7 linked regions of the Homo sapiens genome follow. The gene in region 3 interacts genetically with the main gene of each other region. Each region holds a gene or a part of one and is shown on either strand. Other genes may lie near its edges. The genes, in order: TNFRSF12A, MAGOH, CDH1, ARMH1, HNRNPA3, TMEM79 and ITGB7.

The links.
Region 1: changes in CDH1 (region 3) and TNFRSF12A together harm fitness more than expected from each alone (negative genetic interaction), as found in Homo sapiens cells (one large-scale study listed by BioGRID).
Region 2: changes in CDH1 (region 3) and MAGOH together harm fitness more than expected from each alone (negative genetic interaction), as found in Homo sapiens cells (one large-scale study listed by BioGRID).
Region 4: changes in CDH1 (region 3) and ARMH1 together harm fitness more than expected from each alone (negative genetic interaction), as found in Homo sapiens cells (one large-scale study listed by BioGRID).
Region 5: changes in CDH1 (region 3) and HNRNPA3 together harm fitness more than expected from each alone (negative genetic interaction), as found in Homo sapiens cells (one large-scale study listed by BioGRID).
Region 6: changes in CDH1 (region 3) and TMEM79 together harm fitness more than expected from each alone (negative genetic interaction), as found in Homo sapiens cells (one large-scale study listed by BioGRID).
Region 7: changes in CDH1 (region 3) and ITGB7 together harm fitness more than expected from each alone (negative genetic interaction), as found in Homo sapiens cells (one large-scale study listed by BioGRID).

The regions. Positions count from the first base shown.
Region 1 is NC_000016.10:3,018,884-3,022,883, reverse strand, and holds TNFRSF12A (tumor necrosis factor receptor superfamily member 12A precursor), read right to left. Parts: upstream 2,517-4,000; 5' UTR 2,487-2,516; coding exon 2,393-2,486; intron 1,670-2,392; coding exon 1,565-1,669; intron 1,330-1,564; coding exon 1,195-1,329; intron 1,114-1,194; coding exon 1,058-1,113; 3' UTR 501-1,057; downstream 1-500. Other genes in the region: HCFC1R1 (host cell factor C1 regulator 1), read left to right, coding at 1-21. UniProt on the Homo sapiens protein: Receptor for TNFSF12/TWEAK. Weak inducer of apoptosis in some cell types. Promotes angiogenesis and the proliferation of endothelial cells. May modulate cellular adhesion to matrix proteins.
Region 2 is NC_000001.11:53,228,519-53,232,018, forward strand, and holds part of MAGOH (protein mago nashi homolog), read right to left. Parts: intron 437-3,500; coding exon 354-436; intron 1-353. UniProt on the Homo sapiens protein: Required for pre-mRNA splicing as component of the spliceosome. Plays a redundant role with MAGOHB as core component of the exon junction complex (EJC) and in the nonsense-mediated decay (NMD) pathway.
Region 3 is NC_000016.10:68,810,292-68,813,791, forward strand, and holds part of CDH1 (cadherin-1 isoform 1 preproprotein), read left to right. Parts: coding exon 1-50; intron 51-1,392; coding exon 1,393-1,568; intron 1,569-1,843; coding exon 1,844-1,972; intron 1,973-3,021; coding exon 3,022-3,204; exon of another isoform or gene 3,205-3,271; intron 3,272-3,500.
Region 4 is NC_000001.11:44,719,714-44,722,902, forward strand, and holds part of ARMH1 (armadillo-like helical domain containing protein 1), read left to right. Parts: exon of another isoform or gene 1-1,085; intron 1,086-2,071; exon of another isoform or gene 2,072-2,189; intron 2,190-2,245; exon of another isoform or gene 2,246-2,466; coding exon of another isoform or gene 2,467-2,534; exon of another isoform or gene 2,535-2,706; intron 2,707-3,189.
Region 5 is NC_000002.12:177,215,794-177,219,293, forward strand, and holds part of HNRNPA3 (heterogeneous nuclear ribonucleoprotein A3), read left to right. Parts: coding exon 1-103; intron 104-184; coding exon 185-395; intron 396-709; coding exon 710-799; intron 800-882; coding exon 883-978; intron 979-1,066; coding exon 1,067-1,147; intron 1,148-1,911; coding exon 1,912-2,052; intron 2,053-3,243; coding exon 3,244-3,366; intron 3,367-3,453; coding exon 3,454-3,500. UniProt on the Homo sapiens protein: Plays a role in cytoplasmic trafficking of RNA. Binds to the cis-acting response element, A2RE. May be involved in pre-mRNA splicing.
Region 6 is NC_000001.11:156,287,325-156,290,133, reverse strand, and holds part of TMEM79 (transmembrane protein 79), read right to left. Parts: intron 1-2,809.
Region 7 is NC_000012.12:53,197,252-53,200,751, reverse strand, and holds part of ITGB7 (integrin beta-7 isoform a precursor), read left to right. Parts: intron 1-298; exon of another isoform or gene 299-305; 5' UTR 306-308; coding exon 309-509; intron 510-2,800; coding exon 2,801-3,002; intron 3,003-3,088; coding exon 3,089-3,259; intron 3,260-3,500. UniProt on the Homo sapiens protein: Integrin ITGA4/ITGB7 (alpha-4/beta-7) (Peyer patches-specific homing receptor LPAM-1) is an adhesion molecule that mediates lymphocyte migration and homing to gut-associated lymphoid tissue (GALT).

The sequences.
Region 1 (4,000 bases), about 66 Mb from region 3:
GGGGACATAATGGAGCTCTGAGTGCTGGTGGACAGTGCCCCTCCCACCTTCCTTCTTCCCCACAACAGAAGAGACCAGCGACTCCCGCAAAGGGACAAGGTTCCTCCCTCTCCTGCAGAGTAGGCATCTGGGCACCAAGACCTTCCCTCAACAGAGGACACTGAGCCCAACGGAGTTCTGGGATGGGAGGGGTGGGAGCATGGGAAGGGAGGCATCCCACCCCCAAGAAGAACTGAATAAAGATTGCTGAGCAAAGGAAGGCTTCAGTCTGGAACCTGGGGCTTTTGGGGATGGTGGAGAGGGCAGAGGCGCGGGATGCTGGGGTTTCTCCTCAAGATCTTCCCTGGAAAACTGTTAGGGCCAGCCAGGTCCTTGCCGGCTGAGTTCCAGGCATTGAGAATGTGTGAGTCAGAGCCTCACCCCCGCCCCCGCGGCTGGCTGACTCACTCCCTCCCTCCAGCTCAGGGGAGTCAGTCGGGGATCACTGCCTCTCCAAACCATTTAAAGTTAAAGATTCTTTTATTAATAAATTCTCCCTCCCCTCCAAACTCTCCCCAAAATAAATATCTCCTCCCCGCTTTGGGGAGTTGGGGGGGTCTGTATCTTAGGGCCAGCCCTCCTAGTGGGCCAGCCCCCTAGTGTTAAAAATAGGTCCCTAACCCCCCAGGGTGACCCCCGTGGTGGAATTTCAGGACATCTGAGTGAGTGGGGCCTAGTGTCAAGTCTGCCCCCCAAGTCAGCCTGGCCCCCAGGGCCTCTAGGAAGGAGGGCACCCCCCTCCCCTGTGCAAATGCTGCAGTTCCTTAGTCAGTGTCAGCTGTTTTGTGTGAGCCAGCGTGAGGCTCCCTTTCTGTTCTGGAGCCAGAGGCAGGGCAACCAGACACCTTGGAAGGTTCCCCTGAACCCTGGGCCCAGGCCTCAGAGGTGATTCACCGCCCCCCACCCCCCTTGTGGTTGGAGGAGCTTGGCTCCCGCCGCGTCTGGGAGGCAGAGACTGGCTCTAGAATGGATGAATGAATGATGAGTGGGCGAGCCCCGGCTGGCAGGGGGCACATTGTCACTGGATCAGCGCCACAGCTGGGCAGCCCTCTCCGCCGGTCTCCTCTATGGGGGCTGCAAGATAAGAGGTGGGGTCGTCAGCAGCAGAGAAAAGGTCGAGTGCTGACAGGGCTGGGCAGGCCAGGGCACACTTACTGGTGAACTTCTCTCTCCTGCGGCATCGTCTCCAGACCAAAAAGCCAGAAAGCAGCCCCAGCACGAAGGTCAGGCTCAGAGCGCCCCCAAGGATGGGCCAAAGCAGCCGGAAGGGGGCAGGAGGTGCTGCAGCGCCTGGGGGCGGGACTCGGAGTCAGACCTCGCCCCTCTCCAGGCCAGCCCCGCCCCCTAAGACTGAGCCTTCTGCCTTCTCCCAAACGTGGCCTCCTCCCTGACCGGAGCCCCCTCCCAGCTCCCACCTCCTCCCGAATGATTTCCCAGATGCAAAGCTCTCGGCCCCGCTCTGCGCACCAGCCACCCTCCCTCCCAGTCTGGGGTCCGCTGGCCACTGGCCCTGCCCCCCACTCACAGCCCAGGCAGAAGTCGCTGTGCGGTCGCGCCCTGCAAGACGCGCAGTCCATGCACTTGTCCAGGTCCGCGCTCCAGGAGCTGCCGCGGGAGCAGGGGGCGGTGCCTGGGGAGGGGGCCTCGGGTCAGAGGCTGGGGGCGGGACTCGGCTATTCTGGGGTCTGAGGTCAGGGTCGGCCGGCTCGAATAACGTGAGTCACCGGCGCCCTCCCCGCGCATTCCTCACAGGTGACCGCACGGCCCGACCGGGACACGGCAGCTCCGGGAGGGAGGGCGTAGCGCGGGACGCTGGGGGTGGGGGGGGTCAGGTCCCCACAACCCCCCTGCCGCCGGCGGGTGACTCACTCCTGGGCACCGGGCCCGACCCCAGTCCCTCCCCCCGCATAGCTGGGCACTGAAGTCACCGGATGGAAGGGGGCACCCCACATGGTATAGAGGGCACAGACCCTAGTGCCTCTCGACGGCCTCCCCAACTCGTCGATCACTGGGGCTAGTTAGACCCTGTACGGACCAGGCTGGGGGCGTGCCCCTTCCTAGACTAAACATCCCGCCCTCACTCACTTTCTCTCTCCATTCGAAGTACTTCGGACTTGTGGAACTGAAGACCCCCCCCAACCCCAATTGGACGGTGGGAGAAACTGAGGCCCGGATTGTGAATGAAGCTTGGAGAGTGATGGAACTTCCCACAGCCGGGAGCGAGCTGTTTGAAGGCCACCTGACCCCAGATCCCCACATCCGCCTGTTCCCCCAGTTCGGCGCTGTTCTCCAGACACCCAGTCCGGCTCCCGAGCCCCGGCCCGGGGTTCCCCGACCCCGGAGTCCCGCGTACCTGGCGCTTGCTCCCCGGCCACGGAGCGCAGCAACGCCAGCCAGAGCCCCAGCACGAGGAGCCGCAGCAACCGGCGCAGCGAGCCCCGAGCCATAGTGCACGTCCTGCGCCCGCCGCTGTCTGCGCCCGCCGCCGGCCGGCAGGGACCCACGGCCGCCGCCCCGCCCCCGCCCCCGCCTTCCGGGGCGGAGCTCTCGCCTCCGCCCGCCTTGAGGTCCGCTTCGGGACGCCCCGCCCCGCGGCGCCCGCTCAGTTCAGTCATTCATTCAACAAAGTCCTGGCGCGGGAGCTGCCAGGACCCCGCAGGGACGCAGACCCCCTTCCTTGCCCAGCCGGTGATCTAGTCCAGCGTGCGTGGTGTGGGGAAATCAAAAATTAGACACGAGTGCTCGCTTCGGCAGCACATATAGAAATCAGACACGAACGGCCGGACGCGGTGGCTCACGCCTTTAATCCCATCAGTTTGGGAGTCTGAGGCAGGCGGATTACGAGGTCAGGAGTTCGAGAGCAGCCTGACCAACGTGGTGAAACGCCGTCTCTACTCGAAATACAAAAATTAGCCGGGCGTGGTGGCGCGCGCCTGCAATCCGAGCTACTCAGGAGGCTGAGGCAGGAGAATCTCTTGAACCCGGGAGGCAGAAGTTGCAGTGAGCCGAGATCGCGCCACTACACTCCAGCCTGGGCGACAGAGTGAGAGTCCGTCTCAAATAAATAAATAAATAAATAAATAAATAAATAAACAAACAAACAAACAATAAAAAGAAATCAGACACACGACCAATCCATGCAGAGATCACTGCAGCTTCCTTCCCCCCACCTCCCCTTGAGATTGCGTCTCACTCTTGCTCAGCCTGGAGTGCAGTGGTACGATCACGGCTCTCTGGGCTCAGGTGAGCCTCCCACCTCAGCCTCCCAAGTAGCTGGGACCACAGGCCCTGCCCCACCACGTCCGGCTAATTTTTGTATTTTTTGTAGAGACCAGGGTCTTACTATGTTGCCCAGGTTAGCCTGGCCACTACAGCTTTGTTAAGGGCCCGGGGGGTATAACAATTAAACCTGAGGTCAGGAGCTCGAGACCAGCCTGGCCAACTTGGTGAACCCCCGTCTTTACTAAAAATAAAAAAAAGAAAGAAGTTAGCCGGGCGTGGTAGTGGGCGCCTGTAATCTCAGCTACTCGGGAGACTGAGGCAGGAGAATTTCTGGAACCTGGGAGACGGAGGTTGCAGTCAGTCGAGATAGCGCCATTGCACTCCAGACTGGGCGACAGAGAGGGCCTCCATCTCAAAAAACAAAACAGGCCGGGCGCGGTGGCTCACGCCTGTAATCCCAGCACATTGGGAGGCCGAGGCGGGCAGATCACGAGGTCAGGAAATCGAGGCCATCCTGGCTAACACGGTGAAACCCCGTCTCTACTAAAAATACAAAAAAATTAGTCGGGGGTGGTGGCGGGCACCTGTAGTAGTCCCAGCTACTCTGGAGGCTGAGGCAGGTGAATGGCGTGAACCCGGAAGGCAGAGCTTGCAGTGAGCCAAGATCGCGCCACCACACTCCAGCCTTGGCGAGAGAGCGAGACTCCATCTCAAAAACAAACAACAACAACAACAAAAA
Region 2 (3,500 bases), on a different chromosome or scaffold from region 3:
GCCAGTCTCAACAGTCACACTGAGAAAGCTATTCAGACTCGGTGACTCTACAGTTTATCATGAGCACTTTTTTGGCATATTCCATTTTTTCTTCTGGCTGCTCCTATGCATTAATCTATATGTGTGTGTCAACAAGAAGCTCGCAGTAGCAATGGCTGAATGAAACACCAAAAGTAATAGGAGCAAGTCCTCAAAAATAATTTGGGGTTCCTCCCTAACAAGAAGGACAAAGCTGCCCACCTGCATTTTGCATTTGCCCCAGCTCTTCCCATAATGGTCCCAATTTGGTTAAGGTTTCTTATCAATCTGCTCCAAAACAGACACAACTGGATATAAGGATCATGCACACTTACTTGGATTGATTGACATCAATAAGGGAACCAATTTTTGATGTTGTAAAAGAAATGTGTTCATCTCCAATGACGATTTCAAGCTCCTAGAAACATTTTAGAAAATCGAAGTCAAGTAGAATTGGATTATTCATCAAGCACACAGAAGGATTAATCATTTGCCAAATCACACAAACTTGACTACAGATGGCCACAAAAACAAGGGCAGTTCACTCTGAGCACTAAACTGTGCTGGGCACTAGAAACAAGAGATAAATACAGCTCATATTTAGAAGAAGTTGTACCCTTAAGGCCCTACCATTTCTCAGATTTGGAAAAATCTATGTAGGTTTTTTTTTTTTTTTTCCTGAGACAGAGTCTCACTCTGTTGCCCAGGCTGGAGTGCACTGGCATGATCTCGGCTCACTGCAACCTCCGCCTCCCAGGTTCAAGCGATTCTCCTGCCTCAGCTTCCTGAGTGGCTGGGACTACAGGTGCCCGCCACCACGCCCGGCTAATTTTTTTTGTATTTTTAGTAGAGACGGGGTTTCACCGTGTTAGCCAGGATGGATTTTTTTGTATTTTTAATAGAGACAGGGTTTCGCCATGTTGGCCAGGCTGGTCTCGAACTCCTGACCTCAGGTGATCCGCCTGCCTCAGCCTCTCAAGTGCTGGGATTATAGGTATAAGCCACTGCGCCCAGCCTATGTAGTATTTTGTATGAGTTTTCATTGTCAACAATGTGGAGTAACATGAATACACCTATGTTTTAAAAATACCAAACAATTGGACTGGGTGTGGTGACTCATACCTGTAATCCCAGCAGTTTGGGAGGCCAATGCAGGAGAATCACTTGAGCCCAGGAGTTTAAGACCTGTCTGGGCAACTTGGCTAAACCTCATCTGTACAAAAAATACGAAAACTAGCTGGGTGTGGTGGTGTGCATCCGTGGTCCCAGCTACTAGAGAGGCTGAGGTGGGAGGATTCCTTCACCCCAGGAGGTCAAGGCTGCAGTGAGCCATGATCTCATCACTGTACTCCAGCTTGGGCAACAGAGTGAGACCCTGTCTCCAACAACAACAAACAAAAACAAAAACCAAAGAATCTAATCTATCTAGGCAACTTCCAGACCTTAGGTTTGATCCCCACTTTGTCACTCCCTACATGTATGATGTTGGATCTCAATTTCCAAACAGTGACATGAGTACCATAACCTTCAAAAAGTATCTATGTGTAGCCTACTGGGTGCTGGCTATTGTTCTCAGTGCTTTGGACAGATAAGTAAAACCAAGCAAACCAAAGATCTCTGCCCTGTGGAATTCATATTCTTGTGAGGCCTATTTACTTTTTCTTCTTTTTGATTCATATATCCTTTTTGTTATAATTCAATCAGAAAATCGAAAAAACTGAGATGTTTCCAATACTCAGATTTATAAATTATTGCCATACTTGTGTCAGATTTTTTTTAAAAAAGAAGTAAAATATTACAAAGTTTATGTCCATCTCCCATTCTGTTCTCCCTCCTGTATCCCGATTTGTTCCACTCTTGTTTCAGATTTGGTAGTATGTTTTTACTTATTTCTTTTTAGATACAGGATCTCACTCTGTCACTGAAGCTGAAGTATAGTAGTAGGATCATAGCTCACTGTAACCCTGAGCTCCTGGGCTCATGCTATACTGCACCTTTAGCTTCTCGAATAGCTAGGACTACAGGTATGCGCCACCACGCCCAGTTAATTTTTAGGGTTTTTTTTTTTTTCTTTGTAGAAAAAAAGGTCTCACTGTGCTCAGGCTGGTCTTGAGCTCCTGGCCTCAAGTCATCCTCCCACCTTGGCCTCCCAATTAAGAACAAAAGTGCTGGGAATGCAGGCATGAGTCACTGCACCTGGCCTAGACGTGGTAGTGTGCTTTAAAATTTTTACAAAATGGTCTTATTATACATACTTTTTACATTTTTCATTCCACATTGTTTTCGAGATTTATCAATGTTGAGTTACACAGATCTAGCTCATTAGTTTTAAATGCTTGTGGTATTCCATTTCCCTACTGAAATAAACTTAAGTTTTAAATTTTTATTCCTATAAACAATGTAGCAAGAATATTCTTCTATACATCTCCTTGTACATGTGAATATGTCTCCATATAATTCCTAGTATTTTAAATGCTGCCAGATGCCACAAAATTACTCCCTAACGCGGTTATACTAATTTTATTCTCACTCTTTTCTCATATCATTTTTTAAATTCGGCAGATTTTTTTCTGTTTTTATTCTAATGGGTCTGAAATGGTATCTCACTGTTGTCCTTTCATTTTACAAATGAAGCCGTAAATCTTTTCATATTAGCCACTTGTTTGATCTTGTAAGTTATCTATTCATAACCTTTGCACATTCTGCCACGGGACAGTCTTTTTATTAATTTGTAATTCTTTATATATTCTGGATGGAGAACTCTTGCCAGTTTTATGTTTTGCAGATAACTTCTTCCAGTCTATGGCTTATCTTTCAACTTTATCTTGCCATCTTTTGTCAAACCTAAGTTGTAAAGAAGTCAAATTTACCAATCTTACCCCTTAAGGAGTTTTAAAAACTCCTTCTCTACCCAGAAATAATACAAGTCTATATTCTGTTTAAAATTTTTGATTTCTATGGCCTAATTTTAAAAATATTCCATAAATACATTGTCAGCTGTCCTGGTACAATTTGTTAAATAATTCGTTCTTTTCCCATTAATGTGAAAGTCCACCTCTGTAGCACACTTTTCTAAGTTTCCATATATTCATAGGTTGGTTTCTGGGCTCTCTATTCTGTTCCATTGGTTTAGCTGTCAATTCCCGAGGCAATATCATACTACAAATGACCACAGCTTTGTAAGAAATTTCCAGTATTATTTTGGCTACTCTTGCCTCTGATTTTCCATGAATTTAATGCTCATTCTATTTGATTCTAAAGGGAAAAAAATCCTACTGCGATTTTTATTTGAATTAAGAGTGAATTTATAAATTACTTTGTTGAAAACTGACATCTTTATGATACTGAATCTTGCCATCCACAAAAACGATACATATTTTTGTCCTTCTATAAAGCCCTTTCAAGTTTTGTACATCTTGTTAAATGCATTCCCAAGTTCTTTATAACTCTTCTTGCAATTATTAATGGAATTGATTTTAATT
Region 3 (3,500 bases):
ATTCACCCAGGAGGTCTTTAAGGGGTCTGTCATGGAAGGTGCTCTTCCAGGTATATCCACTAATGAGAATCTGAATACTCAGAAAGACTCTTAGGTTCTTTGGACCCCAAAGTGTTGTCCAAGCCCAAAGGTTGTGTAACTAAAGCTGATCCTTCCTACGGACAGAACTTCTTGGCAAGCCATTGTTGTGTTATATGCATGTGTGTAACAGTCTACCTGTGGAAACATATAAAATAGGGAGAGTTTAAGAACAATCTTCCCTTTTTTATTATTAATTTTTTTTTTTTTTAGGCTGGGCATGGTGGCTCATGCCTGTAATCCCAGCACTTTGGGAGGCCAAGGTGGATGGGTCACCTGTGCTCAGGAGTTCAAGACCAGCCTGACCAACATGGTGAAACCTCGTCTCTATTAAAAATACAAAAAAATTAGCCGGTCGTGGTGGCGGGGGCCTGTAATCCCAGCTACTTGGGAGGCTGAGGCAGGAGAATTGCTTGAACCCGGGAGGCGGGGGTTGCAGTAAGCTGAGATCACGCCACTGCACTCCAGCCTGGGTGACAGATCCAGACTCCGTCTCAAAAAAAAAAAAATTTTTTTTTCAGAGACAGGGTCTTGCTTTGTTGTCCAGGCTACTTTCAAACTCCCGGGCCCAAGCAATCCTCCCACCTCAGCCCCACAAGCTGCTAAGATTATAGGCATGAGCTACTATACCTGGCTAAGAACAACCTTCCTAATTAAGGAACAGATCTTTACCAGTACCTTAAAGCCCTAAACAATCCCCCTTGGTCACATTCTTTTCTCTCCTCCATAAAGATAACCACACCCTAGGCTGGGTGTGGTGGTTCACACCTGTAACCCCAGCACTTTGGGAGGCCAAGGTGGGCAAATCACTTGAGGTCAGGAGTTTGAGACCAGCCTGACCAACATGGAGAAACCCTGTCTCTACTAAAAATAGAAAATTAGCTGGGCGTGGCGACGCATGCCTATAATTCCAGATACTTGGGAGGCTGAAGCAGGAGAATTGCTTGAACCCGGGAGACAGAGATTGTGGTGAGCCGAATCACGCCATTGCATTCCAGCCTGGGCAACAGGAGCAAAACTCCGTCTCAAAAAAAAAAAAAAAAAAAAAGATAACCACACCCTGACTTTTGTGGTAATCATTCCCTTTCTTTTCTTTATTACCATTTGTGTATTTATACCTGGATAATAAGTTGATAGTTTGAGCTTTCTTTCTCCCCTAGCACTTTGGTAAGAATTCTAGGAATTAGGGAACTCTGACACGGTACCACCCCCATGTCCCCTCCTTTATCCCTCAGGGCAGAATTGGATTAAGCAGTATTGACCCAGTCCCAAAGTGCAGCTTGTCTAAACCTTCATCTCCTTGAACTCTTCCAGGAACCTCTGTGATGGAGGTCACAGCCACAGACGCGGACGATGATGTGAACACCTACAATGCCGCCATCGCTTACACCATCCTCAGCCAAGATCCTGAGCTCCCTGACAAAAATATGTTCACCATTAACAGGAACACAGGAGTCATCAGTGTGGTCACCACTGGGCTGGACCGAGAGGTCAGGGGTCAGGAGGATCCAGAGGGTGTGGAGGACAAATGTGTATTAGCTCAATCCCGTGGACAAAGCAAAATCCTGCTAGGCCAGTTGTCAGTTAATACAGTGATGGTCTAAGCTTTGCATCTAAGCTTGTGCCCAGAGGTTCCGTGCCTAGAAGACAGGCAGGCTGGCATGAAGCACATGGTTAAATATTCTGGTTCCATGTGTTGGGCTGGGCTAGGCCAAAGGTGGCTAGTGTTCCTGGTCCTGACTTGGTTGTGTCGATCTCTCTGCAGAGTTTCCCTACGTATACCCTGGTGGTTCAAGCTGCTGACCTTCAAGGTGAGGGGTTAAGCACAACAGCAACAGCTGTGATCACAGTCACTGACACCAACGATAATCCTCCGATCTTCAATCCCACCACGGTAATTCTATAACTCCTTAGAGGGTTTCCAAAGAAAGGTCTTTTGTTGTTCATGAACTAAGTGTCACCACTGCTCATGGGCGAAGTCTTTGAAAACTCTCTCCAGACTAGAGAATGTTAACTTTAAACTTAAAAGCAAGCATCTTGAGATGGCAGTTGTCTTTTAGTATCTTTTTTCCACCCTTGGCCTGGGGCCAATTGGTGCAAGATTGTGAAGTTGCAAAAAGCACCTACTGATTTCATAGTCTCATGGTACATTTTTATAGCAAATATTACCTGGTTTCATTTCTTTATTGAACAAATATTTTCTAAGTTTATATTAGGCACTGTGTTAGACACTGGAGAGACCATCACACACAAAGATTCCATTCTCATGGTGTTTCTGGTATAGCCAGGAAGACATCTTATGAGAATTATTGTATGCCAAGGATATTACATGCATTCAAGGAGAAGGTATTGAGAACCAAGTAGGGTAAGTTTAAATCATCCTGTATAATGGCCAGGCGTGGTGGCTCACACCTGTAATCTAGCAAGTTGAGAGGCCAAGGCTGGTGGATCCCTTGAGGATGGAGTTTGAGACCAGCCTGGCCAACGTGGCGAAACTCCATCTCCACTAAAAATACAAAAATTAGCTGGGCGTGGTGGTGCATGCTTGTAATCCCAGCTACTCGGGCATCTGAGGCATGAGAGTTGCTTGAACCCAGGAGGCGGAGGCTGCAGTGAGCCGAGATTGTACCATTGCACCCCAGTGCGCCCATTGCCTGGCCTCTCCTTGTCACATCTTCTCCTTGAAGCTTGCTTTCAGTTAGCCAGGTGTGGTGGTGCATGCCTGTGGTCCCAGCTACTCTGGAGGCTGAGGTGGGAGGATTGCTTGAGCCCAGGAGGTTGAGGCTACAGTGAGCCATGATCGCTCAAATACACTCCAGCCTGGTGACAGTGAGATCTTATCTCAAAAGAACAACAAAAAAAGAGGAATCCTTTAGCCCCCTGAGACTCAGCTCTGCTAGCAGTCTTGGTACTTTGTAAATGACACATCTCTTTGCTCTGCAGTACAAGGGTCAGGTGCCTGAGAACGAGGCTAACGTCGTAATCACCACACTGAAAGTGACTGATGCTGATGCCCCCAATACCCCAGCGTGGGAGGCTGTATACACCATATTGAATGATGATGGTGGACAATTTGTCGTCACCACAAATCCAGTGAACAACGATGGCATTTTGAAAACAGCAAAGGTTTGTATGGTACCTGGCAAGATGCAGAAACTGGCATCCTCACAGCTGTTCATACCCTTGTCCCCTGGTATCTTCTTAGAAGTAGATTCGCTTTGGCAGGGGGACAGGGTGACTTTCCCAGATTGTAGTGGACCATGTGGGATTTGCAGTGGCTCTTCCTGCTCATGTAAGAAATCAAGAAACTGTGCTGTGTGTGGTGGCTCACGCCTGTAATCCCAGCACTTAGGGACGCTGAGGCAGGCAGATCACGAGGTCAGGAGTTTGAGTCTCTGCTAAAAATACAAAAATTAGCCAGG
Region 4 (3,189 bases), on a different chromosome or scaffold from region 3:
CTCTGTAAATCCACGCAGTCCACATCTCTGACCATCTCACCAGGTGCCCTGTGTCTCCCACTGTGAGAAGGACCACACTCTTCCCCTTTCTGTTGTGCCTGGGTTGTATGATATGAGCATCCATAGAGTGGTGCCCAGTTCTGGGGTGGCCAAGAAGTATAAGGTCCTGGCTTCAAAGCACTCTCAAAGTTGGCCATGGGGCCAGGTGCAGTGGCTCACGCCTGTAATCCCAACACTTTGGGAGGCCAAGGTGGGTGGATCACCTGAGGACAGGAGTTAGAGACCAGCCTGGCCAACATGGTGAAACCCCGTCTCTACTAAAAATACAAAAAAATTAGGCAGGTGTGGTGGCGGGCGCCTATAATCCTAGCTACTTGGGAGGCTGAGGCAGGAGAATTGCTTGAATCCATGAGGCAGAGGTTGCAGTGAGCCAAGATCGTGCCATTGCACTCCAGCCTGGGCAACAAGAGCAAAACTCTGTCTCAAAAAAAAAAAAAAAAAAAAAAAGTTGGCCATGGGGTATACGGGGAGACAGCTGCCACAGTTCTGGCTCTCCAGCCTGTCCAAGATTCAAGCTAGGAAAGTTCTGTAGCTGTGTGAATGAGGACCACAGTGGCCACTGCAGAGCCTCCTCTGGGGTCATCCACCACCAGGCTGGTGGTTTCTAAGCGTGGTCCTAGGCTGCCATGACCCAAGCCTCGCCTGTTGGAATGCAGAATCCAATGAGGTCTTTTCAACAAGATGTATGGAGCATGCATTGTGTACATGGAATGGTTTCAGGCTCTAGGTAAACAGAAGTGAGATGTGTCAGATATGTTCATTGGAGTTCACACACTAGTGAGGAGACCATTTAGTGGATAGTACTAGAATTCTATAGCAAGAATTCTATACGGTGCTACGGGTTCAGAGACATAGGACATCTACTCCTGAGTGAAGAGTGAAGGCAGAGGAGAGCAGGCCAGGGGCAGCTTCCTGAAAGTTGATTTCTCAGCTGAGCCTAGAAGAATGAGTAGCAATAGCCAGATAAAGAAGACTTCTCAGGCCGGGCGTGGTGGCTCACACCTGTAATCCCAGCACTTTCGGAGGCCAAGGCAGGTGGATCACTTGAGGTCAGGAGTTCAAGACCAGCCTGGCCAACATAGTGAAACCCTGTCTCTACTAAAAAATACAAAAATTAGCCAGGCGTGGTGGTGCGCACCTGTAATCCCAGCTACTCGGGAGGCTGAGGCAGGAGAATCCCTTGAACCCAGGAGGTGGAAGCTGCAGTGAGCCGAGATCGTACCACTGTACTCCAGCCTGGGTGACAGAGTGAAACTCCATCTCAAAACAAAACAAAACAAAAAAAGGGCAAAAGAAAGAGAAGGCACTGAGATTCTGCTCTCGGTGGGAAGTCTGATACCTCTAGCATACATACTTTAAGTTGGACCCCAGAAGACAGTACCCTCAAGGTCAAGGTGGGCCAAAAGTAAGCCGGCCCTCAGGTGGTCTTGTATGGATTATATAACTACCAGGTGGTCCAGAGAACCTCAAGTGTTGAATGTGGACAAAGGTAGTCCAGAATTGTTTGTGTCCCCAGGTACCTGATAAAAACAAAAGAAAACTATCTCTGGAAGAAAGTATCATCATCCTAACTCTTAAGTTTTTCCTACACTTAATTTTTCAAATATGAGACCAGTCCAAAGTATAAGATAATCATGCACACAAAGTCATCACTATAAATTGGAACTAGCACACTAGAAAGACTCACAAGACTTCAGCCAAATTATTAGATACAGACTGTCAAAAACTAGGTTTTCTTTTAAAAAAAAAAATCTTATAAACATTTAGCTTCCTAAATGTTTACAAGAAGCTAAAAAAACATGACAGTAGGCCGGGCACTACAAAAAGTACACAAAATTAGACAGGCTTATGAGGCTGAGGTGGGAGGATTGCTTGAGCATGGGAGATGGAGGTTGTAGTGAGCCGCGACCACACCACTCCGCTACAACCTGGGTGACATTTGTGGAGCTACCCCAACCTCCCAAAGCATGAAACACCCCACCCACACGTCTCTCTTTAGTAACAGAACATTCAGCCTTGCCTAGGCAAGACTTCAAAAAATTTAACCATAAACTCATAGTTGTTTTTCTCCACGGAAATCTTTAGTAAAAGGCGAAAGATTTATTCGTTATGAAGAGAAACCAGAGATCTGCCTGTTAGCCTTTTGCCTGGCTTCCCAGCTATTGACTGGTCTCCCTCTACTTACGGTGCCTTTGGACCTGCAGACAGAAGCTTTTCTTCCACTGTAGAAAAGTGTCCTAAACATGTTCTCACTGGGTAAAATCTCCTGACAAAGAAAAAAAGTTTAAATATTATTATTCAAACAGATAACCCTGGTAATAATTCTCGTATCTACAATGCATTCTGGGATGCAAATGAGCTGAGCGCCGGAACAAGAGTTCCTCTAAACCCTCTCTCTCTTACCAGTAAATGGAGAGAGGCACTTGACTACTGAGCTGGGGAGAGCACATGGCCAAGTCCTGTCTTCCATGTAGCCACATGTGTTCAGAGTAGCAGTGCCCGGTGCACAGTGACTCACACCTGTAATCCCTGCACTTAAGGAGGCAGAGGTAGGAGGATCGCTTGAGCCCAGGAGTTCAAGACCAGCCTGGACGACAGAGTAAGACCTTGTCTCAGAAAAAAAATAAAATTTAAATTTAAAAAAAAGTCCAGGCGTGGTGGCTCATGCCTGTAATCCCAGCACTTTGGGAGGCCGAGGCAGGAGTTCTCGGTCACTTTGGGAGCACTTTGGGAGGCCTGAGCACTTTGGGAGGCCTGAGGTCAGGAGTTCAAGACCAGCCTTGCCAACATGGTGAAACCCTGTCTCTACTAAATACAAAAATCAGCCGGGCGTGGTGGCAGACGCCTGTAATCCCAGCTTCCCAGGAGGCTGAGGCAGGAGTATCGCTTGAACCCGGGAGGCAGAGGTTGCAGTGAGCGATTGCACTCCAGCCTGAGTGATGACAGTGAAACTCCGTCTCAAAAAAACAAACAAACAAAAATACTAGCATTTACTGGCTGGGCCCACCGGGCCCAGTGGCTCATGCCTGCTATCCCAGCACTTTGGGAGGCCGAGGCGCGTGGATCACGAGGTCAGAAGTTCAAGACCAGCCTGGCCAAGATGGTGAAACCCCATCTCTACTAAAAATA
Region 5 (3,500 bases), on a different chromosome or scaffold from region 3:
TGTGACTTATTCTTGTGTTGAAGAGGTGGATGCAGCAATGTGTGCTCGACCACACAAGGTTGATGGGCGTGTAGTGGAACCAAAGAGAGCTGTTTCTAGAGAGGTATTTTAATAATACATTGTGTAATATGTGAAATTGTTGTGAAAGTTTGTTTCTTGACTTAATATATTACTTTATTTGTAGGATTCTGTAAAGCCTGGTGCCCATCTAACAGTGAAGAAAATTTTTGTTGGTGGTATTAAAGAAGATACAGAAGAATATAATTTGAGAGACTACTTTGAAAAGTATGGCAAGATTGAAACCATAGAAGTTATGGAAGACAGGCAGAGTGGAAAAAAGAGAGGATTTGCTTTTGTAACTTTTGATGATCATGATACAGTTGATAAAATTGTTGGTAAGTAGCAATTTATGGTAACTTGAATGAGAAAGTAGAACTGGTTTTTCTGTTTTGAACTAAATTTGCTAAATTGTAATTTTCTGTTGCGTGTAATGGCATTTATAGTGTATAGTCAATTTTCATAGTGTCTGCCTGTGTAATCAGTATCCAGATCAAGAAATAAACATAAACATCTCAGAATGCTCCTTCATTACCAGAGTCACTACCTGATTATGTCTTAATGGGTTACATAATGACAGAGGGTATCTCATATATGTGCTTTTCCAAACATAAAATAACTTTTTGTTTTGTTTGATTGAAAAAAAATTTAGTTCAGAAATACCACACTATTAATGGGCATAATTGTGAAGTGAAAAAGGCCCTTTCTAAACAAGAGATGCAGTCTGCTGGATCACAGAGAGGTGAGTAGGACCATACACATGTATACAGTGGATATGAGTGGTGTTTGTAAGGTTCTTAAAAATCTCCCTTGCCTGTATTAAAGGTCGTGGAGGTGGATCTGGCAATTTTATGGGTCGCGGAGGGAACTTTGGAGGTGGTGGAGGTAATTTTGGCCGTGGTGGAAACTTTGGTGGAAGAGGTAGGCTGTTTATCTTCTAAGTACATGGATACCTGACATTTTGGTAAGTTGAATATATTATTTTAATTCATTTCTTGTTTTTCCTCAGGAGGCTATGGTGGTGGAGGTGGTGGCAGCAGAGGTAGTTATGGAGGAGGTGATGGTGGATATAATGGATTTGGAGGTGATGGTAGGTGGCTTATTTTCATTGATGTTTGATATTTTAACTTTCTTTACTTATTGAAAATTATTTATTACACTTTTCTAATTTTAGTTAAAACTTCAGTGGCTAAATGGTTAAGGTGTATTTCCAAACTGTACATGGAAGAACAGGAACCCTTTTTCCCCTGGAGAGACATTAGCTGCTCTTTTTCAGCAAGTAGTAGGGGTTGAGCTAGAATTGTTCTATTAAGTCTGAGACTATATTTTTCTTAGTGAAATTTTGTAAAATGAAAACTGATTTTCTTTTTTACTATCAGAAGATGGGTTACACATTTATTTTTCATTCTTACTAGTGCAGATACTTGATACTCTATTATTATTAGGTATTACCAGGCTTCAGAGTGCTAAATCAATTCATTGGCTTATTTGCCAGTGGCTTAAATGTAATATAAAACCAGAGTTGAGTAATTCTAGCTATTCAGGAGGCTGAGGCAGAGGGGTTGCTTGAGGTGAGGATTTTGAGACTAGTCTGAGCAACATAAGGAGACCGTATATCTAGAAAAATAAAATAGGGGAACATGGTGGCACATGCCCATAGTCTAGCTACTCAGGAGACTGAGGTGGGAGAATGGCTTGAGCCCAGGAGTTCAAGGCTGCATTGCTGTGGTTGCACCACTGTACTTGAGCCCGGGCAACAGAGCAAGACCCAGTCTCTTACACACACACCAGAATTGAATAACGTGACTATACACTTAAGTTTTTGTGTGGTCTTGTTATTTGTTGTTTTTTTAGGTGGCAACTATGGCGGTGGTCCTGGTTATAGTAGTAGAGGGGGCTATGGTGGTGGTGGACCAGGATATGGAAACCAAGGTGGTGGATATGGTGGAGGTGGAGGATATGATGGTTACAATGAAGGAGGAAATTTTGGCGGTGGTAAGCATTCACTTGTTTTATTTAAATGTTAAATATTCAGTGTTGCTAACAGTTCCCATGACACATATTTGGAAAGTGTTAAAAGCGTTTGATCAAATTTTATGTTCTATAAGAAAAATACTAAAATGGTTGGTAGTTCAAACCAAATTTTCTTGACTTTGCTGGTTATTTAGTAAAATGTACAAATGTACTCAGCTCTCTTTTTTCTTTTTTTTTTTTTTTTTTTTTTTTTTTGAGATGGAGTCTTGCTCTGTTGCCCAGGCTGGAGTGCAGTGGCGTGATCTCAGCTCATTGCAATCTCCGCCTCCCGGGTTCATGCGATTCTCCTGCCTCAGCCTCCCTAGTAGCTGGGACTACAGGCGTATGCCAGCACGCCCGGTTAATTTTTTTGCATTTTTAGTAGAGATGGGGTTTCACCATGTTAGCCAGGATGGTCTCGATCTCCTGACCTTGTGATCTGCCCGCTTCTGCCTCCCAAAGTACTGGGATTACAGGCATGAGCCACTGCACTCAGCCAAATGTACTGAATTTTTAGTTGAGTAGTAAAAAATGGACATTTACCAGTATTCAGTACATGTTTTACGTGTAAAAGATTGGGAGTTTATTTATTGCCAAAATTTTACTTAACTCCTTGGTACTTTTAAACTGGACAACCGGGAATAAATTGTTTGAATACTCCAGACGTGTTGAAGTGAGCAGGTTGCCATCTAGGGCCCAGGTTAACAAAGTACTTTGGGTCTTAATATAATATGTCACAGGTAGTTGAAGCGTTTAAGCAAGCTAGTGTATGTAGGTCATTAAGCCACAATACTGTTAAAAGCTTTCTTAGGAATGCACTGTTTTATTGGACCTAATTAACATGTCAATGACAGATGAGTGGAAGTTTTAACAAGTTAGAATGCCTTCTCATTGTTTTAAATGTTATACTGCTTCAGAATCATAGTGAATGGAACACTGGCAATTTTAATGGTGTTAATGGTAGAGAGAACATGCGCCTAGAGGACAGCATTTAATATAAACAAAATGTTGATGGTCTTTTAATATCCTGACATCAGTTACCCCAAGTGGTGCTACCACAGTGATGTGTATAAGCATGCTACCATAATTCTCAAAAGATAATAGTTACATACGTTAAAAGGGGAAAATGATGATTGTGTAGGTAAACCACACATAAAACCTTTCTGATTTCAGGTAACTATGGTGGTGGTGGGAACTATAATGATTTTGGAAATTATAGTGGACAACAGCAATCAAATTATGGACCCATGAAAGGGGGCAGTTTTGGTGGAAGAAGCTCGGGCAGTCCCTATGGTGGTAAGTACTTTCTTAAATCAATTCTTTAGAGCCTTTTTAATTTAAAAAATGTGCATACTTCTTTTAAAATACTATGTATATTTTCAGGTGGTTATGGATCTGGTGGTGGAAGTGGTGGATATGGTAGCAGAAGG
Region 6 (2,809 bases), on a different chromosome or scaffold from region 3:
GATCATTTTATATCAATATAAAAATGGTTTTCTCATTCTTTTATAGCTGCAGTGTGTTCCATTGTATTTATCCTCTTGCAGATGAAGAAACTAAGATTCCAAGGGTTAAGTAAGACTGGTCCAAGATCACACATCTGGGAAATAGCAAAGCCATGATATGAACCCAAACCTGTTCATTACCTTCCCTTCTGCCAATTTGAGGGGCAGAGGTAAAGAGGAGAGCAAAGAAGCCACCTCTAGGAGGGCTTGAAGCCCAGAGGATGGGTCAGCCACAGATTTCGTGGAAGATATGTTCAATACACACCCCTCAATGGAGGGAGGGGAGAGCAACTTCCTCTTAATATATGAAGGATCACTTCTTAATATATGAAGGACCACTTATTACATGATTCATGTGCCTCTATTCTTTTTTACCTGTGAAAGGGAGGGAAGAGTAACTGCTGCTTCTCTTCTGCACTAGGAAGCAGCATAGTATAATGAACCAAGTACCAGATTGTTTTTTTGTTGTTCTTGTTATTTTTTGAGACAGAGTCTCGCTCTGTCGCCCAGGCTGGAGTGCAGTGGCCCAATCTCGGCTCACTGCAAGCTCCGCCTCCCAGGTTCACGCCATTCTCCTGCCTCAGCCTCCTGAGTAGCTGGGACTACAGGTACCCACCACCATGCCCGGCTAATTTTTTATTTTTATTTTTAGTAGAGACGTGGTTTCACCGTGTTAGCCAGGATGGTCTCGATCTCCTGACCTGGTGATCCACCCGCCTTGGCCTCCCAAAGTGCTGGGATTACAGGCGCCCATCACCACACCCGGCTAATTTTTTGTATTTTTATTAGAGATGGGGTTTTACCGTGTTAGCCAGGATGGTCTCGATCTCCTGACCTCATGATCCACCTGCCTTGGCCTCCCAAAGTGCTGGGATTACAGGTGTGAGCCACCACGCCTGGCACCAAGTACTAGATTGTTTTAAGTACTCTACATGAATTAACTCATTTAATCCTCATAACGACCTCATTTTACAGATGATGAAACTGAGGCACAAACTGCTTAATGAACTTGTCCATGGTAAAGAAGAAAGGACCCTGGATAAGAGAGGAAAAGGACCTGGATTCTAGTCCTGCCACTATTGCCGACTGACCTGAGCAACTCTCTTCCCCTAATCTGTTGTGATTTTCCCTTTGTAAAATGGGAAGCCTGGACCAGACAATCACTGAGTCTTCCTTTAGCTCCCTGATGATTTTTACTGCTTAAGCCAACTTCTATCTGAAACCAGTATTCCCCAGGAGTTTAAGATGGCAGGCTAAGTTACATGAGCAGGAACATATTTATTTTGGGAAAACCTATTGGGAGAAAATGCAAGGCTGCATGATGGTCAGGAGGCTGGTGGGACAACTGACTGCTGGACCACAATCAGAAGTGACAGGAAGACTAATTTTAGCTCAATAGGAAGAATATTTTATTTTAGCGAGCTACCTGGAATCCTGTATCAAAAGTAACAAGAGCAGGCCAGGTGTGGTGGCTCACGCCTGTAATCCCAGCACTTTGGGTGGCCAAGATGGGTGGATTATCTGAGGTCAGAAGTTCGAGACCAGCCTGGCCAACATGTTGAAACCCTGTCTCTACTAAAAATACAAAAAAAATTAGCTGGGCATGGTGGCTCACACCTGTAATCTCAGCTACTCGGGGGGCTGAGGCAGGAAAACTGCTTGAGCCTGGAGACAGAAGTTGTAGTGAGCCAAGATTGCGCCACTGCACTCCAGCCTGGGTAACAGAGTAAGACACCATCTCAAAAAAAAAAAAAGAAAAAAAAAGTAACAAGAGCATATGTATTAGGGAAAATGGAAAGAAAAGACCTGCATTTGGGTTAAGAAATTCAAAGGTGCCTTCTAGATTAACAGTAGTTCATGTGAAAATACCCCTAAGGATTTTTTTTTTTTTTTTTTTGAGACGGAGTCTCACTCTTTCACCCAGGCCAGACTGCAGTGGCGCTATCTCGGCTCCCGGGTTCACGCCATTCTCCTGCCTCAGCCTCCCGAGTAGTTGGGACTGTAGGCGCTCGCCACCGCACCCGGCTAATTTTTTTGTATTTTTAATAGAGACGGGGTTTCACCGTGTTAGCCAGGATGGTCTCAATCTCCTGACCTCATGATCTGCCCGCCTCCGCCTCCCAAAGTACCCCTAAGGATTTTAGGTGATGGCAAAGTCTGAATGAAAGGAGAGTAAGGGCCAGGCGCAGTGGCTCACGCCTGTAATCCCAGTACTTTGGGAGGCTGAGGCGGGCAGATCACCTGAGGTTAGGGGTTCAAGAACTGCCTGGCCAACATGGTGAAACCCTATCTCTACTAAAAATACAAAAAGTTAGCTGGGCCTGGTGGTGGGCGCCTGTAATCCCAGCTACGCGGGAGGCTGAGGCAGGAGAATCGCTTGAACCCAGTAGGTGGAGATTGTAGTGAGCTGAGATCCTGCCATTGTACTCTCCAGCCTGGGCAACAAGAGTGAAACACTGTCTCAAAAAAAAAAAAAAAAAAAAAAAAAGTGGAGAGTAAGAAGGCTGCGAGGAGAGCTCACACATCCTTGGTTTGTATGAAGAAAAGGACAGTACCCTCTACCAGGGCCATCCCCTCATTGACAAACAGGAAGAGAAGGACAGTACCCTCAACCAGGCCCCCCAACCTTGAGACCTCATCTCTATATTTTTTTAATTTTAATTATTTATTTATTTGTTTGAGACGGAGTCTCACTCTGTCACCCAGGCTGGAGTGCAATGGCGCGATCTTGGCTCACTGCAACCTCCGCCTCCCAGGTTCAAGCGATTCT
Region 7 (3,500 bases), on a different chromosome or scaffold from region 3:
TCGCCATGTTGACTAGGCTGGTTTCGAATTCCTGAGCTCAGGTGATCCACCCACCTTGGCTTCCTAAAGTGCTGAGATAACAGGCATGAGCCACCACGTCCGGAGGCCCCTACCTTTGCGTGATACCTGCTCCTTCCCATTATTTTGAAGAAACTGCTGAATCCACAGGGGAAGTGAAACTATGAGGGGAGATAAAGTGTTGGGGCAGAGTTTTGAGAGTGATAACCACAAGCTAAGTTTAGAGGACTGAGAGTTTGAGAGTCCTCCCTGAGGACCCACATGTCCCCCTTTATATCCTATTACAGGGCATGGTGGCTTTGCCAATGGTCCTTGTTTTGCTGCTGGTCCTGAGCAGAGGTGAGAGTGAATTGGACGCCAAGATCCCATCCACAGGGGATGCCACAGAATGGCGGAATCCTCACCTGTCCATGCTGGGGTCCTGCCAGCCAGCCCCCTCCTGCCAGAAGTGCATCCTCTCACACCCCAGCTGTGCATGGTGCAAGCAACTGGTAAAGATGGGCCTATGGTCTTTGAACCATGTGTATGTGTATGTGTATGTGTATATGTATGTGCAGCCTGGATATATGTGTGTGATTGTGTGGGCACATGTATGATTTTCTGGGAACACTCCACAGTCTCATGTGTGACTGAGTTTGTGCACATAGGACTCCTGTGTGTGGATATACGTGTGTGCATACACATGCATGCAAGTTTCTTGTGCACTTAGGATTATGTCTGTATCCATTTGCTTGTGTATATATGGAGAGAATTTGTGACCATGAATTGGGAGAAAGTATGTGCTTGTGGGAATTCATGCTTGTGTATAGGTAGAGGGAGCTGTTGTGTATGTAAACATGGGAGAAAGGTACTACCCAGTGCGGGCTGCCATAACAAAATACCATAAGCTGGGTGGTTTAAGCAACAGGAATTCATTTCTCCTAATGTTGGAAGCTGGGAAGTCCAAGATCAAAGTGCTGGCTGATTTGGTTCCTCAGTTAGGGCCCTCTTCCTTGCTTGCAGACTGGCTACCTTCTCGCTGTGTCCTCACATAGTGGGGATGGGGTTGGGGGATGGGGGTGGGAACTGCCTCTCTTCTTGTAAGCGCACTAATTCCATCATGAGGGTTCCACCCTTAGGCCCTCATCTAAGCCTAGGTACCTCCCAAAGGCTCCATCTCCAAATACCATCACATGGAGGGTTAGGGCTTCAACAGAGGATGGGGTGGGGGTGGGGAGGGGTAGGGGTGCAGAGTTCAGTCCATAGCAGCAAGTGTGTGGTTAGATTTCTAAGTCTGTGTTTTGGGTGGAGGCATTCTGTTCCTGGGTGTGTAGTAGCCTATGACTGGACAGGTAGAAAGGGAAGGGGTGGAAGCATATGGGCTTGAGGGGGACTGGAAAGGCTTGAGCTACCTAAGTGGCCAAGAAGGATGCTAGGGAGCAGGTGTCTCCCTGGCTCTTCAAACAAAGCTGTTGTTTGTTTATGCTTTAAAGAGACAGAACTCATGGAGCAGCAGAGCAGGAGGGGTGCCCAAGCTGGGATGGGGGCAGGTCTGCCTCTCTCAGTGTAAGATGGAGGGTTAGATCAGTGTGGGAGCCCAGATAAGAGATGGGGGCAAATTCACATGGAAGCAGAGCTACAGATGCTTAGAGGACCCAGGAGAAAGGCACACAGGGACCCAGGAGAAAGGCACACAGTGAATCTGACTGGACAAGAAGGGTAGATACTGAGTCTGCACAAGGCAGAGAGGCAGAGGTGCCAGGCTGGAGCTGGGGAGCTGGCGCTCTTGAGATGGTCAGGTCTGTGTCTGGCTTCTCCAGTCTCCTGACACCTAGGGCCAGCTGAGAAGCCGCTCTAACCATTTCCTTCCCCTGTGGCTTCCCAACCAGTCCCAGGGATACCAGACATATTGGTGGGGAGGACGCCTCCTCTTCTGTTCTTATCCTTTCCTTTCCAAGGAGCTGTGGGTCTTAGTCTGACCACCTTCCCATTTTGGTGTGAGCTTGCTGGGGAGGTTGGCCTAGGAGGCAAGGCCCCTGTTTTTTTGTGGTAGTGAAGTCTCTAAGATCTCAACAGGAAGTCTGTGACTCTATTGGGGAGGAGAGGGGTAGGTGGCTGGGGCAAGGGGGAGTTGAGATAGGGGAGGGGTGGGGGACTGCTATAGGAAGTGGGGCTCTGACAAGGAAGAAAGGACCAGAGTTCCACCGGTGGCGGTTCATGCCTGTAATCCCAGTACTTTGGGAGGCTGGGGCAGGAGGATTTCTTGGGGCCAGGAGTTCGAAACAAGACTGGGCAAAAAAGCAAGACCCTGTCTTTACAGTAGGAAAAAAAAAAAAGGCGTGGTGGTTCACGTCTGTAATCCCAGCACTTTGGGAGGCTGAGGTGGGCGCACTTGAGGTCAAAAGTTTGAGACCAGCCTGACCTATATGGGGAAATCCCGTCTCTACTAAAAATACAAAAAACCTGGGCGTGGTGGCACATGCCTGTAGTCCCAGCTACCGGGAGGCTGAGGTACGAGAATCACTTGAACCCGGGAGGTGGAGGTTGCAGTGAGCGGAGATAGCACCGCAGCACTCCAGCCTGGGTGACAGAGTGAGACTCCGTCTCAAAAACAAAACAAAACAACAAAAAAGACCGGAGTTCAAGGGTAGCTGTGGCGAGGAAGAGGGGAGGGAATCAGGGACTCAAGGAGTGGACTGGAGGTGGGGGCATTAGAGGTGGCCGGGTTTGCAGGGTGTTTTTGGGAGCGGGGCCCAGGGCCTATGCAGGACCGGGTCCCGACGCGCCTTTTCTTGCTGAGCAGAACTTCACCGCGTCGGGAGAGGCGGAGGCGCGGCGCTGCGCCCGACGAGAGGAGCTGCTGGCTCGAGGCTGCCCGCTGGAGGAGCTGGAGGAGCCCCGCGGCCAGCAGGAGGTGCTGCAGGACCAGCCGCTCAGCCAGGGCGCCCGCGGAGAGGGTGCCACCCAGCTGGCGCCGCAGCGGGTCCGGGTCACGCTGCGGCCTGGTGAGTTAGGGGAGGCGGGGCCAGGCCAGAGGTCTAGGCTGGCGTTCCAATGCGCTCTGCTGACCCGCCCGCCGCCCACCCCCTAGGGGAGCCCCAGCAGCTCCAGGTCCGCTTCCTTCGTGCTGAGGGATACCCGGTGGACCTGTACTACCTTATGGACCTGAGCTACTCCATGAAGGACGACCTGGAACGCGTGCGCCAGCTCGGGCACGCTCTGCTGGTCCGGCTGCAGGAAGTCACCCATTCTGTGCGCATTGGTGAGCCGAGCGCTGCCTCCCGCCCTGTTAGCCCTTGCCTATTCAACCACTGCCCTAGCCTCTGCCAACATCCTGGACTCACAAGGGCCCCAACTTGCCCTCCCAGTTGTTGACAGGCCTAGCCAGGCCACAGGTTCGTTCCTGCATCTCTCCCTAGACACCCATCTTCTAGGTCAGAGCTGGAGAGGACTCAAGAGACTATCCGTTTTACAGGCCTGAGACCCAGCGTCTGGAGAGACTG